4 linked regions of the Homo sapiens genome follow. The protein of the gene in region 2 purifies or fractionates together with the protein of the main gene of each other region. This does not show direct contact. Each region holds a gene or a part of one and is shown on either strand. Other genes may lie near its edges.

What was found. The genes of interacting proteins can lie anywhere in the genome.
Region 1: the proteins of GABPA (region 2) and SERPINA9 purify together in Homo sapiens (affinity purification with mass spectrometry; one large-scale study listed by BioGRID and IntAct). This does not show direct contact.
Region 3: the proteins of GABPA (region 2) and CUTC fractionate together in Homo sapiens (co-fractionation; one large-scale study listed by BioGRID). This does not show direct contact.
Region 4: the proteins of GABPA (region 2) and SPRR1A purify together in Homo sapiens (affinity purification with mass spectrometry; one large-scale study listed by BioGRID and IntAct). This does not show direct contact.

Annotation. Positions count from the first base shown.
Region 1 is NC_000014.9:94,469,698-94,473,197, forward strand, and holds part of SERPINA9 (serpin A9 isoform A precursor), read right to left. Parts: intron 1,578-3,500; exon of another isoform or gene 391-1,577; intron 161-390; 5' UTR 144-160; coding exon 1-143. UniProt on the Homo sapiens protein: Protease inhibitor that inhibits trypsin and trypsin-like serine proteases (in vitro). Inhibits plasmin and thrombin with lower efficiency (in vitro).
Region 2 is NC_000021.9:25,755,472-25,758,971, reverse strand, and holds part of GABPA (GA-binding protein alpha chain), read right to left. Parts: intron 963-3,500; coding exon 768-962; intron 1-767.
Region 3 is NC_000010.11:99,749,234-99,752,733, reverse strand, and holds part of CUTC (copper homeostasis protein cutC homolog), read right to left. Parts: intron 2,366-3,500; coding exon 2,338-2,365; intron 1-2,337. UniProt on the Homo sapiens protein: May play a role in copper homeostasis. Can bind one Cu(1+) per subunit.
Region 4 is NC_000001.11:152,982,802-152,986,314, reverse strand, and holds SPRR1A (cornifin-A), read right to left. Parts: upstream 2,235-3,513; 5' UTR 2,190-2,234; intron 1,118-2,189; exon of another isoform or gene 1,104-1,117; 5' UTR 1,085-1,103; coding exon 815-1,084; 3' UTR 501-814; downstream 1-500. UniProt on the Homo sapiens protein: Cross-linked envelope protein of keratinocytes. It is a keratinocyte protein that first appears in the cell cytosol, but ultimately becomes cross-linked to membrane proteins by transglutaminase.

The DNA.
Region 1 (3,500 bases), on a different chromosome or scaffold from region 2:
TTGAGGGAATACACCTGTGAGGCAGGGGTGCTCTTTGTGGAGGAAGGGCGGGGGTATGCACTGGGGGCATTGGCCGGGGACACACAGTAGATTGGAGCACAGAGGCCAACAGCAAAGAGTACTCCATAAAGGTAAGATGCCATTTTGGAACAAAATATGTCTGCAAGAGAAGTAAGAACCATTGAGGGGGTAAACTGAGGGTCCAGGCCCTGAATCAGAGACCCTTTAACACCCCCACGCCATCAGCAGCAGAATGAGGACAGATAGGCCAGTTAGCAGAGCTCTCTCACATAATCTCTGAGCCTCACAATATTCCCATGATGTAGATCTTATTATTGCTGTTTTACTTGCAAATGAGTAAACAGGCCACAGAGAGTCTGTGCAACTTACCCCAAATAGCATGGTTGACTTGTCTGTGTTCTGTGTGGGCTTCAAAGTCAGGTCTCAAATTCCAAATCCCATGCTTTTTGATGTTTCTGCTTCATGGACTTATTTTTTAAGAATTGAGTATGTGAACCCAGATTGCATTAGCAGCCAGAAGTGGTTTCTCACCCTTTGGAGGTCCCTCCACACATTCTTTATCCATTTTGTGTAGATCTGATTATTTTCTCACCCTGGCTGCCTGTTCCCAGACACAGGCATTTTACTAATGTGTTCATATCTCTCAAAAAGTGGAAACCTGGAGCAAAAGGCTGTCCTTTTTGCTGTGCTCCTTCAGGTGCCCTGAGCACTGGCAGTCAGTTGCTGATGAGCTGCAGTTCTAGTCACATCTGTCTGCTTCCCCTTCAAGCCTCAGCTGACATGGCTTTGGCCCCAAGGAGACTTCAGACTAAATGACCTGATAGCAATTTCAAACCCCAACAGGGCTGGGCTTGAATCTAACCCTGACATTCGTGGTGGACAAGTAACCTCTCTGGACTTCTCTGTTTTGCCTTTGTAAAACAGAGATAGTTACCTTACAGAGTTGTTCAGAGGACTGAGTGTGATAAGGCACAAATTGTGCAGCACGGGACCCAGCACATGGTGAGCGCTGAATACATTACTTTTACTGTTGTTTTGTTGAAGTCAGAGAGAATTTGATTGGAGCAACTCTATCAAGTACTGCTCACAGGTCTCCCCAGCCCTGCCTACAGCACCCTCACCTGTTCAGTTTCATCAGAAAGATTTCATTTCCTTTAACACAACTTTACAGAGGAGCTCCAACCCTGTGCGTTGACCCTGAGATACAACAGTAAGTGGTCATTTTAGAGAAGGAAGGTGTATGAATCCAATGCAAGGCCAGGGGAGGTCTGTGCTCAGCCAGAGGGGAAAGCAAAGCAGGTGTGTGCTCCAATAGGTCACATCCGTCTGAAGGCTTTTCTCTTCTCACAAATTTTATAATTTCCCCCCCATGACCTGGATGTCCTTCCCCCCATCATCCTTTTCACAAGCACAGTGCCTTCATAATCCCCCTTGCCCTTCATCAGACTTTGCTCTTTAGTCATTTATACTACAGTGTGAATGGCTGCCACCAACTCTTCTCCTAGGAGCACCGGCATGAAGTGTTACTCCTGATTGTGAAGGAAAGACTTTACCCACTGGAACAAGAATTCAGTCAATAAGTGAACAATTATTTTGCCAGAAATGGAGAAGGAAAAGATAAGAGAACCTTTGCCAAAAGCGACAAAAATATTGCCACACATAGTCACTTGTCTATGTCAGACCAAGCATAATGTGACAGCCACATTCCCAACAATTTCTCTGTGGAAATGAAATATGTAAATGAATCACATTTTATTATACCAGATATAATTTAACTTAGATGGAACTTTATAAAGAACCCTTTTACTGAATGAGTAATTCTTTTGCAAACCTGTTCATTTCTCTCCATTTCCACTTATGTGATTGGCGATTTCTGTTGTGTAGTTTTGTATTTGCCTGTTTGACTAAAGTGGAATTTTCTTTCTAAGTTACATTCGCATCCATCCATCCACCTACTGGACTCTTTGCCAACCTGTTCTGAACTGACCTCCAGAGCTGCCCCCACCCTGAGTGCCCCATCTCTCCCTTTCTCCAAGAAGGCCATTTTACCCATGCTGCCATCTTCCAAGTCAGGAGACTGATGGCCACTCTGCACTCTTCGGCCACCCTCCTTCCCCACATCGTTCTTCCTCCCCGAGACATCGCAAGCCCCAGCTTCTCTCCATCTCTTTGCTTTTCCCTTGGTCCAAACCCTCCTTATCTCTCCCCTGGACAATCCTGAAGGCTTCTGGACTCATCTCCCTCCTCTGGTCATGCTTCCTCAAAACGTTTTTCTTAAGAAACTTCACCAATTTGACTCTGCACAGAGACGATCTACTGGGAGATAGAAGTGTTGGGGCTACAATGGGGGACAGATAGCCAGGGTCCTGGCTCTTAAAGAGTTCTCTGGGAACCCTATGACATGTGGCCTTGAGAGTTGACTGCTTCCCCTCTCTTCGGCCCCACTGCTGGCCAGTGAATTTATCTGCAGCCTCTGCAGTCAACACCAATAGCAACAGCCCAGGGTCCACCTCCCTCCCTTCTCTTCCCACTCACCTACCCCTTGCTCAGGCATAGCATACTCTGCTACAAATGCCCCTCCTGGATGCCACCTTCCTTTGCTAATGGAAAAGCCCTTGTTTCTCACTCTGGAAGACTCTACTTAGCTATTACCGGCTTGAGAGGCCCTCCCTGGCTCCCCTCTCCTGTTGTGACTTCATCACTCTCTCCCTTCTCTCTTCTGGCACTTCTGAAATTTACTCGACTTCTATTACCAAATGGATTATCACTGACCACACGCGTGCCTTTAGATAATCTCTAGGTTCTTTGAATGTGTAATTTATGCATTTGGTCCATTGGGTTGAACATGTACGCTTATTATGCAGGTACTATAGGAGGTGTTGGGGCTACAATGAGGGACAGAGAGACAGGGTCCTTGTTCTTAAGGAGCCCACTGGGAAGACAGACAATTAGCAAACACCACTAGACACAAGAAGTGTGTGTGTGTGATGAGTAAGTACAGGCATTGGGAACACCTATTCCATAACAAGAAAGGCTTCCAGTGGAAGTGGCAGCTGATTGAAACTTGAAAAATGTTAGCAAGGTAAAAGGGAAAAGCAGAGAAGAGAGAGATTCAGGCTGGGAGGACCACCTGTGCAAGGGCCCAGAGGGAACCAGAGCCAGGCAGCTTTGAGGAACAGAAAAGGTTCTGACACAGATTTCAGCACCACAGAAGCCGGCAGGAAGGGCTGGGGAGCAGGAGAGACCAGCTGCCGAGAGAGGGGGCCCCATGCAGGGATGTGCGGACTTGGTTCTGTGCCCTGGAACCCACTGGGGGATGGCTGCAGAGAACCTCAGCAGCAGAGAATTCTCAAGACTATCCCTGCACCTGTCTGTGTTCCTCATTGCTCTACACACCTGCTTCCTGTCCTCCTTCCCCCTTCCCCCACCAGCACGGAAAAGTGCCCAATGTATGGGCTCAGTAGACACTTGGTGTGCTG
Region 2 (3,500 bases):
CAACCTCCCAAGTAGGTAGGACTACAGACACGCACCACCTTGTCCGCCTATTTTTTGTATTTTTAGTGGAGATGGGGTTTCACCACGTTGGCCAGGCTGGTCTCGAACTTCTAACCTCAAGTGATCTGCCTGCCTCATCCAATTTCTTTACATGGTCACTTAATCATAATAATGTCTGAAGCCTTACAAGTTATAAGTGGAAAAACTTATAACCAATGGCTTCCAATGCCAAAAGGTGGCTGCATACACTTCCTTCCCTCTTAAGACTCTATTCAATTAATAGTAAAGACTTCAAAAAAGATTTAATCTCATCAATAATGAAGAGAATGGGTAGGAAGCCACCTGTAAACAAATGATCTCTTCCGTTTCTAGATGAGCAGTAAATGTAAGAGCTGATCAAACAGAAGGCAACAAATGGAATATATGAAGAGGGCTAAGTGTAGGGCACAGCATCTGATTTAAGAACTTGGATTCTAATGTTAGCCTGGGCTTGAATCCTGGCTCTGCCACTTCCTAGCTGTGACTTTATGGGGCTCTCAAAGCCTCACTTTCCTATCTAAAAAATAAGCAAAGTAATGACTTATGGTGTTACTATAGGAATTAAAGAACATATAGAGCTTTCAGCATAGCATTATACAGTAAATAAATGTTAATTATTATTGCTTATTACTTATCATTATCAATAAACAACTAAGATGAAAACAAAGTTACAAGGAAATAAAATTAAGCTTAAATTACAATGTAAAGAAATAACTGTAATTTCATACATTTTCGGAGAAGTTCCAGATGACTCCAGAGAATTTCTCCCCGAGGAACCCGCTGAAAAAAATCTTCTTGGTTGAGACTACATAATTCTCTCCCCGAAATGTTGAGTGTGGTGAGGTCTATATCGGTCATGCTGAATTCCTTCATTACCCAAACCACCCAATGCAGGACTTGGTCTGTGGACCACTGTATGGGATCTAGAAAGAAAAATATTCACTTTAGCCTAGTTCCATTTTAGATACTGTGTAAATTTACAGTTAACTTCTCAATACACACACATACACACAGATGTTTTCTTTCCCCAAGTATATGAGGTAAACTTACTATATGAAGCAAAAAAAAAAAAAAAAAAAAAAATTATGCTGTAATTTTTTCCTCAGCTCCTTTCCAATTTCTTAATCTAAATTTCTGATGCAGTCACTTGGTTCAACCTCAGCTGGAACTGTATCAAGAAAAACAAAATGCAAAACTGCTCTCCAGTGGGCCAAATGAAAGAATAAAATATGAGATTATTCTGGAGAGAATAAAGTAAATTATCCAAGTTTAAAAAAATTTGCAGTTGCATTGAAAAAAAATCAAAAGGGGATTCTAAGAAGCTAGCTTTATTCTCCAAACTATGAACCATATCCTTTTTCCTCCCTTTTCCTTCCTGTAAAAAGCTGGCTGCTCCTGCATTTACCCTTATGATGCATTTCCAATAAATAAATAAACATGGTAATTGCCTGTTTTACTCAGCTGTCCCCTCACAACACACTAAGAAATACAAGAAATGTGTCTTGTAAACCATTCTATCTTTAGAACCTAACAGTGCCTTGCTCATACACTTGTTTAATCTTAAAGAGTATATCCAAATAATTTTCCTTTTCCCTATCATTTACTACCTAATTGAATTCATAAATAAAAAAATATGGCCAATATCTATAAATATTACATTGCTGTATCACCCGCACCTAATAGAGCATTCTATCTGTGTAAGTTTAATACATATTAGCTAAATTAGTTTTGGTTCTGGTACTCCCACTTTAAGAAGATGATCTATTCAAATAATATTGGTTATATACCCAATAAATAAATGCTATTCAATAAGAAAAGTAGAAAAAAAATAACATTTAGGTATCGAGGGCAAATTATAGTGAAAATAAATCAAACATAAGAATTTTATAAAAGTTCTTCAAAGAGGCAAAGTGCTATTGAAACTGAAACTATTCCATTTGAGACTAAAGGAACAGAGGTGCCCTAGCCTCAAAAGGCAAAAGCAAGCATTCTAAGAATACAGGATTAATAGCCACAGAATATATATTTTAAAATTTTTCCATAAAGTTGTTAAGTGAGGATTCTAGGAAGATGGTGGCAAAGTTTTTTAATTTTTCTGAATTGTACACATAAACATAAAAAAGTGACTGGAGAACAAAACCAAAAACCCACGAACATTTACATAAAACCAGGTGACAAGATATCTTCATGGACCTCAAGATACAAGAGGGTAAAGACAAAGCAATAACAGCTATAAGACCTCCATGGTCTTAGCTTGTGTGCAGGAGAAAGCAAAGGGAAGCAAGGGAAGTGTGACCCACTCTGATCATAGGAAAACCTGAGCGCAGCCAAGAAGCATGCATTCAAAGTACAACAGGACAAGATGAAAGCAACGCTAAAAAGCAGTTTCGCCCAATCCAATAGCTGCAGTGTGTGTTAAGATTTAAAGGGCTGAAGCAATGTAGCACCTGGGTGTTTGTCAAACTGAGCCAAGAACCACTTTCAGGAGAATGGCCCACAGTAAGGAGAAACTGGCAGAGTGGAACTAGAAGTGAGCAGCAGAGGGACGCCAAGGAAAAGGAAAGAGGAGAAGGCCCAGGTAAAAGTCGACAAGAACTGAAAAAGAAAGTTGCCTTATCTGTGAGTACTATACTACTTGAAAACAACAGAAGCAGAGTTAAATAGAAAAGCTATCCTGAAACACACCTCTTTTAAAAGAAAAACAAAGTTAATTTCACATAAAAATTTAAAAATAAAAAAAACTCAGGGAAAAATATAATTTGTCTGATTTGTTTTCTCAAATATCAGGACTTCTGGTTTAACATAACTAATTGTCCACCCATGTTCTGCCTCCTTTCTCTAAGACTCTAGTAAAACAACAGTAAAGGAATTTTTAAAAGATGCAAAATCATAGGAACATGAGTACAAAGTGACAGGCATGGATGAAAGATTTAATCTAATGTTTTGAAGACAATAAGCAGAGTGGTAATCGATTTGGCATAGGAGGGGAAAACTATGACCTAAAATGTTTGCCAAGGAGGATGCCAGTAAGAAGTGAGAGAATTCCTGCCTGCAGAACCCCCTTCACTGGTTCAAGTCATGGTGGTTCTGAGTAGCAAGAGGCTTAAAGCTGAAAATAAGGAGACAGATTTAAAGTAGATGGTGTGGTTAGAACCTCCAGGGTCTCTCTTTCATTTGGGGGGCCAGTTAAATGAGTGCACCCCACACATGTGGACACCGGGAAAACATTTATTAATAGATGGGGAGAGACACGAACAGACACTGAGAGAACAATTCCCAGTAATAAAAGCCTATAAACTGAAGAGTGAGACCGTCTCCACCTTCTCTACCTCCTCCCTGCTCTACTTCCTTTTCCAGTTCCACAACACAGTATTCACATACACACCTACCCCAAATGCTCACCCCTATCTTCTACTGCTGACAGGTATCTGCAAAAAGATCTATAAATATTGACACGTTTG
Region 3 (3,500 bases), on a different chromosome or scaffold from region 2:
GTATGTAACATCTTTTGACCTGAGTCAGCTTCTTGAGAACGTAGTTTCTTGTGTAGCTTTGCATCCCAAGTAATGCCTTGCACACAGCTGATAACAATTGCATATTAAACAAAGGTACTCTTAATGTCAACAATTGTCTAAGTATTACTTGTCAAAACTATATATATTTAGTGCTAAATGGAAAAGCATCACACTCAGAGTCTCTTTAACATTCCTTGATTAACCAAAAAGGACCACAATTTGACAGATAATATATACTTTCTCTCTGCTTATGTTTCAAGGGCTTGTTATAGGTCAAAGCCTTCCTAAATATCTGACAATACCCCTTATATGGCCTTTTTTTTTTTTTCTTTTGACACAGGGTCTCACTCTGTTGCCCAGGCTGCAGTGCAGTGGTGCGATCATAGCTCACTGCAGCCTTGACCTCGGGCTCAAGAAATCCTCCCACCTCAGCCTCTAGAGTAGCTGGGACGTCAGGAGCACGCCACCATGCCCAACTAATTTTTTTACGTTTTGGTAAAGATGGTGTCTTACTATATTGCCCAGGTTCACGGCCTCTTTTTAAAAGTTACTCTTTATCTAGGTGTCACTATTTTGAACGCTGGTCAGTCTTGACATCACTAGTAGTGAGATGACCAGAGACTGAATACCTTCTGATGTGATGTCATATGATGTAAGTATGCAGAATCACCCATGAAGTATTCTGACCAAAAATATTTAAGCAGAGTCTATTCAAACCTCATGATTTAACTATTAGTTTATAGGATATACAGAGGCACGAGGAACAAGCTAAACAATATCATGAGGAAATAATCTGATAAATCCAGAAAGTAGGACATTTTACAGGGTAAGTGATCCAAACTTTTATTTTATTTTGAGACGGAGTCTTGCTGTGTCACCCAGGCTGGAGTGCAGTGGTGCAATCTCAGCACACTGCAACCTCCGCCTCCTTGGTTCAAGTGATGCTCATGCCTCAGCCTCCCAAGTAGCTGGGATTACAGGCACATGCCACCATGGCCGGCTAATTTTTGTATTTTTAGTAGAGACAGGATTTCACCATGTTGGCCAGGCTGGTCTCGAACTCTTGACCTCAGGTGATCTGGCTGCCTCAGACTCCCAAAGTGCTGGGATTACAGGCGTGAGCCACTGGGCCCAGCCCAAACTTAATAATGTAACTTTTTTTTAAAGCAAGAAAAATAAAAGGAAAAACATCTATATTAAAGATATTTTAAAAGATAATAGAACTGGGCATGGCAGCGTGCAACTGTAGTCCCAGCTACTTGGGTGGCTGAGGCAGGAGGATCGCTTGAGGCTAAGAGTTCAAGTCCAGCCTGGCCAATATAGCAAGACCTCATCTCTAAAAACAAACAAACAAACAAAAGATAACCAAAAATGTAATGCTTGTTCCTTGACTGGATCCTAGTTTGAACATATCAGCTATAAAAACCATTGTGGGGACAATTGGAGAAAGTTGAGTATTAAATGTTTATTGTGATAGATGTGATAATGGAATTGTCATTATGGTAACATCCCACCCTTTTTAGAGATAAATAAAGATAAAATGCCATGATGCTTTCAATTTAACTTTAATAAAATACCTCAGGATAGAAAAAAGATGAGACAAATTTGGCAAAATGTTAAATCTAGGGAATGAGCATATGAGTATTCATTATGCTATTTTCTACTTTTTTATATGTTTGAGAAACTTAATTAAAAAAATTAAGATTGTCTTTACATTTGTCTCACTCTTCTATGTTGTATTATCTAATTCTTTAAAAACTGCTCCAACTGTTCATTTCTAGTTAGCCATTATGAACTTAACTGATCTTATGGTTATCATCAGGATCATATGATTAAATTCTGGTTACAAGAAATAATTTGGCAATCAGAGATTTTCAGGAACTGAGACAGTATTATATTTTACCCAAGGATGTTGCCTAAACCTTTGCTTAAACCCTGTTTATTAGGACATTTGTCCTAAACAAAATATGATTAGCATCAAATTTGATGTGCCTCACCAGAGATGAACATCTGAATTCATAAAGTTCTATATAATGGGAGAGCAAATATGGAGAAACCTCAATCTCTATCTGCTTCCTTATTTGCTCCTCTTTGAGCTAATGCCTATTACAATATTTTCCTTCTTATCTAAACTTTTAAATTCTAGCACAGATCTCCCAGTTTTAAACATTTTAATCAAACTATATATTCTTCTCTTTAAAGATCATGTACTAATATGTAATGTACTAATACTCTCTCTCACATTTTCCTGCCTCCTTTGCTCTTCCTCCACTATAGTTCAGTGTTATGCTAGTGAATTGATAGATAAATAAATACCTGGCATTACCACAATCCTGCCTTTTGCCTGAAAAAAGAAAAAAAAAAACAAGTGAATTTTAATATCTTTCTCTTGAATGGGATAATAAGGCAGTGAGAATAGAAACATAAGTCAGAATATATTAAATTTTAAAAATTACTATTAATGTTTAATTTTTACTAGATCTTCTCTATTTCTTTGGGATCTTGGACAAGTAAGATGTCCAGCATAGTAAATTTGTCTCTAGAAAATTATCTTTCCAAAAAGTCATTTTCCCCCCCAATAAGTGCCATTTTCTCCTTCCCCTTCACCTATTAAGATGGTATATAAGCCCCCAATTCTAAGTCATATTTCTTTGTGAACTTCTGTATGTACTTACATATATATGTACTTATGTGATAAAATCTCTTTTTACTCCTGCTAATCTGTCTTTAGTCAGTTTAATTTGCAGGCCCCCAATAACAAACCCTGAGGATAGAAGAAAAGTTTTTCCTCCCTGACATGGTGAGTAAGAGAAAGTTCCTGCTCTCATGGAGCTTACACATTCAAGAAAGACGAGACAATGCACAGGGATATTTATACAATAAAATTCCAGGTAGCAATAAGTATAACAAAGAAAAAATAAAGCAAGTGAATAAATAAAGCAAAAAATAAAGTTAACAAGAGAGTGAAAGAGGGGAGTGGCTATTTCAAATAATTTAAAAATTGTTAGGGAAATAAATGGAACAAGGATGCTTCATATTCTCAAATGGCCTGAACAAAGCATCCATAAAACAAAACATTGACTATCTAAAAAGCTGAAATCACTTCAGAATGGAAAAAAGTCATATTTGCCTGTTTCTTCCAAATCAAGGCTTTCCAAAACATAGAGAAATAATATTTTTAAAGAAATGAATTCTACCATTTCTTTTCGCCTTCCATACAAGATTATTTAGAAGTATATGCTTATCTAAGGCTATCAAAGTGATTTAATAATATAGAGCAGTCACTAAATGTCAGATTTAATAATATAGAACAATTACTAAGTGCTATAACCTGAAGAAATCCCTCACAACTATTCTAGGAGGTAGGTGCTATTATTATCCTAACTTTGCAGAAGAGCAAAGCTGAGGTTTAGGATGGCTAGGTAATGTATCCATGGTCACTATTAGTAAGGGTCAAAGCCAGGGTTTAAACACAGACC
Region 4 (3,513 bases), on a different chromosome or scaffold from region 2:
GTGGGAGTGAATATGTGTTTGTGGGTATGGTGTGAGTGTTCAAGTCCTTGGCTCCATGTATTGGGGGCATCAGAAAAGGAAGATGAGTGCAGAACAGATCACTAGGCTGGACTATGCACAAGCACTGTTTCTTTGGAATAATTTTTAAAAAGGAATCAACTAAACAAAGATGATGATGGCTTGAAGCGGGCACCATCTACACTCACATGTGACTCACTGCAAGTCATTAAGATATAAACATTAAGGTAAAAGAAAAAAGCCTTGCTCTAGCTCTGCCTACCCAAAGTAACAGATTGGGTTGGTGGCCCTGAACATACTCCCACTTCCAGCCCAGGAGTGTCCTGTGTGTACAGCAGCCATACACATTCACACACATTCTCAGTGTCAGGATCGGCCACCTTCTGACTACAGACCTCACAACCAGCCTTCACAGTGTTAGTTCCTACTTCACGCTGAGAAGGCAACAGAGGTTGAATCAACCAGTGACGCACAGCCAGATGTGGAGTTAAAAGTTATTTATTGAAGGAAGACTAGGGATGGTTCACTTGATCCTTCCCCAAATCCATCCTCAAATGCACCCGAGCAACAAGAAGACTAGCTCAGTCAGTGAGACGTTCAGCCTTACGCAGAGGCTCAGGAGCCCTCCAGAATGAGGGTAAGGGACATCTTTTTAGAGGTGCAAAGGAGCGATTATGATTCAGGGTGACAGCATGCTAACTGCAGGGTCAATAGGCAAATGGGATTCATAAGCAGAATGGAGTAGGGTGTTCAGTATCCAGTGGCCAGCTCCTCAAGGGCATGGCTGTGGACCACATTACTTCTGCTTGGTCTTCTGCTGGGCTGGTGCTGGAGTGACCGTTGAAGGGCAGGGCTCAGGCACCTTGGGCTGGCAGGGCTCTGGAACCTTGGGCTGGCAGGGCTCAGGCACTTTGGGGTGGCAGGGCTCAGGCACCTTGGGGTGGCAGGGCTCCTTGGTTTTGGGGATGCATGGTTCCTGGGGTGGAGGCTGGCAAGGTTGTTTCACCTGCTGCTGCTGAGGCTGAGGGGGTGGGGTGCAAGGCTGCTTCTGCTGCTGAGAATTCATGCTTCAAATGTGTTTTTTTCTAGAGACAGAAAGCTGACACAGTGATTCAATTAAAGAAAGATGGATACAAATTCAATGCCAAACAGATTTTATTTCAGGACCCTTTAGAAGAGAAAGCCTTTCATCTCCCTTAACTCCCCCATTACATTTAAAAATGAAATAAGCTTGGATAATTTTCAGGCCCTTTGAAGAGGAGGAGCTAAAAGGCAATTTCTTCTGCTCCATTTTATTGGAGTTCTCTTCTTGGCTCCCTTCCTACCCAAGGCAACTTATATCTGTTCTGGAAAAATGCCCTACTAAAGCTGGCTTCTGAGGGACATGAGGTCCGCATATTAGGTCTTTTGGAAAATGGCATCAGACCACTTTCCTCTCCTAGTACCATGTAGAAAGCCTGTGACTTATAGGATGGCTTTATATTCATCTAAGCCTCTATGGTTTTGCTTCTGGTCTGTGCTTACACAGTCCCTTCCAAATGCTTTTCTTCCCATCTCTGCTTGTCCAAATACCCCTCCATCATAGCTCACATCACTTGACACCCCTAGGAGGGTCTCCTTGAGCAAGGTCTCCCAAAAGTGCACAGCCCTTCTCTGCCCATCTCCGTCATGCCAATTACTATCTACTTTGCATTTCATTTATTTATATATATGTATTACCTTCCTGCTAGGTTTTATGTTTGTTAAGTAAGTACGTTAGGCATTGATTTGTCCAAAGTGCCTAGCATACTGCCTTAAATGGAATAAATGCTCAGTAGAGATCCATCTAATAAATTAAAATTTCTATAAATATCTTGTCAGGGGGAAATTGCAGTGTTACTGAGAGTGCTCTGGGCCTGAGTTCTAGTTCTGCTATGAACTTCCCATGGGCATTTGAACAATCTTCTCCAGGACTCCCAGTTCAATGACTATCTACTGAGGTGGGAGCCCTAACCATCTCTAAGGTCCTTTCAAATCCAGACTGTAATTTAACTTAAAATAAAGATATTCCACTATTCTCTATCTCCCATTGAAACCCTGGATTAACCTGCTTACACATATTTGCCTTTAGCTAATTTCTAATAATGAAAAAGTACACTAGAATTGCCAGTTTGTTGCAATCAGAGACTTACCTGGTATACGGAGCAGAATGGGCTGTGTGGTCCCTTGGGTTTGGTGTGAAGGCAATGGCCAGCTGGCTTTTATAAGATGAATGAGCCCTGCCTCAAGGAAATAGAAGCTCTCGGGCACTCTGTTTTCATTCCTCACCTGTCACACATGACTCACACTACCATCCTCATCACCGGTTGGCTCAGCTTTTTTGATGAACACCACCTGATATTTTTTGGCACTGGCTGGCTGAAAATGATGTCACTGGCCTAATTTTCACTGCCACCCTCATCCTCAGACCCAGGTGCAGGGCTTGCCTTGAGGGAGGGGTGAGCAGCAGGCTTCATGGAGGGTTTCATGAGTTAACCCTGGGGGGACATCTGAGTCCTGTTGAGGCCTTGCCACCTGCTGTCCTTGTCATTGAGATGGTTGTTCCCCGTGTTCTGTGGGACAGGGCACTCTTGCACACATGAATAGGTGGGAAAGGGAGGGGGAGCAGAGGAGCTGAGGTGGGCCCTCCTTGTCTGCCTTGGTGAAGGTGGAAGCTAGAAATAATGAAATGGACTGATTATAGACCCCTTGTCTCAGAGTCCAAGACCCTTCCATCCATTTCCCCCATCTTTTTCCCAATTCCATTAAACTACACACATTCAGAATAATTTACTTATGACTCTCCCACTCTCACCTTCCTCCCCCTGACTGGTTGCTAATCTGGGAAAACCTGCTTTCCTTCACCAACCACACCTTTACCCTTCTCCTACTTCAGGGACTTTCAGGGGCTAATCCTTCTTCTGGGATCACTTTTTCCCTTCACTCCACCCAGACATCTGGCCCTGGCCTTTTCCTCCTTTCTGATCAGGCTAGACTGCCCCCCACCTGAAAACCCAAAAGCCTTTTCTACCTGCCTCCCTGCAGCCCATCCATGGGGTCCTCAATGCTGAATCCTTCTCCACTTTTGCCCACTGCCAGCTCCAGCCCCAATACCTAGAGATCCTGCTGGCTGCAAGGTTTTCCTCCTCCTTCTGGGTCTGTATCTCCTGGGGGCTTTCCGAGGGTCAGAGCTGTTCCTGCTTAAAGCAACGGTGTCCCCACCACAGTGTTTATTTCCTCATTTATTCAACAAATCTCAGTGGGGAGCCTAACATATGCCCATCATGCCTGTCATTCTAGGAGCTCTCTGATGAGGAAGCCCACTTTTCCTCTACAGATCATGAACTCCCCAGGGTAAGAGACAGAGCACAGTTGAGAGCCACTGAGATTATGGATCTCAGAGAGCCTTTAGTTCACACTCCTCAAGGGATGATTGGGGAATCTGAGGCCACCAGAGGTGAAATAACTCACCAAGGT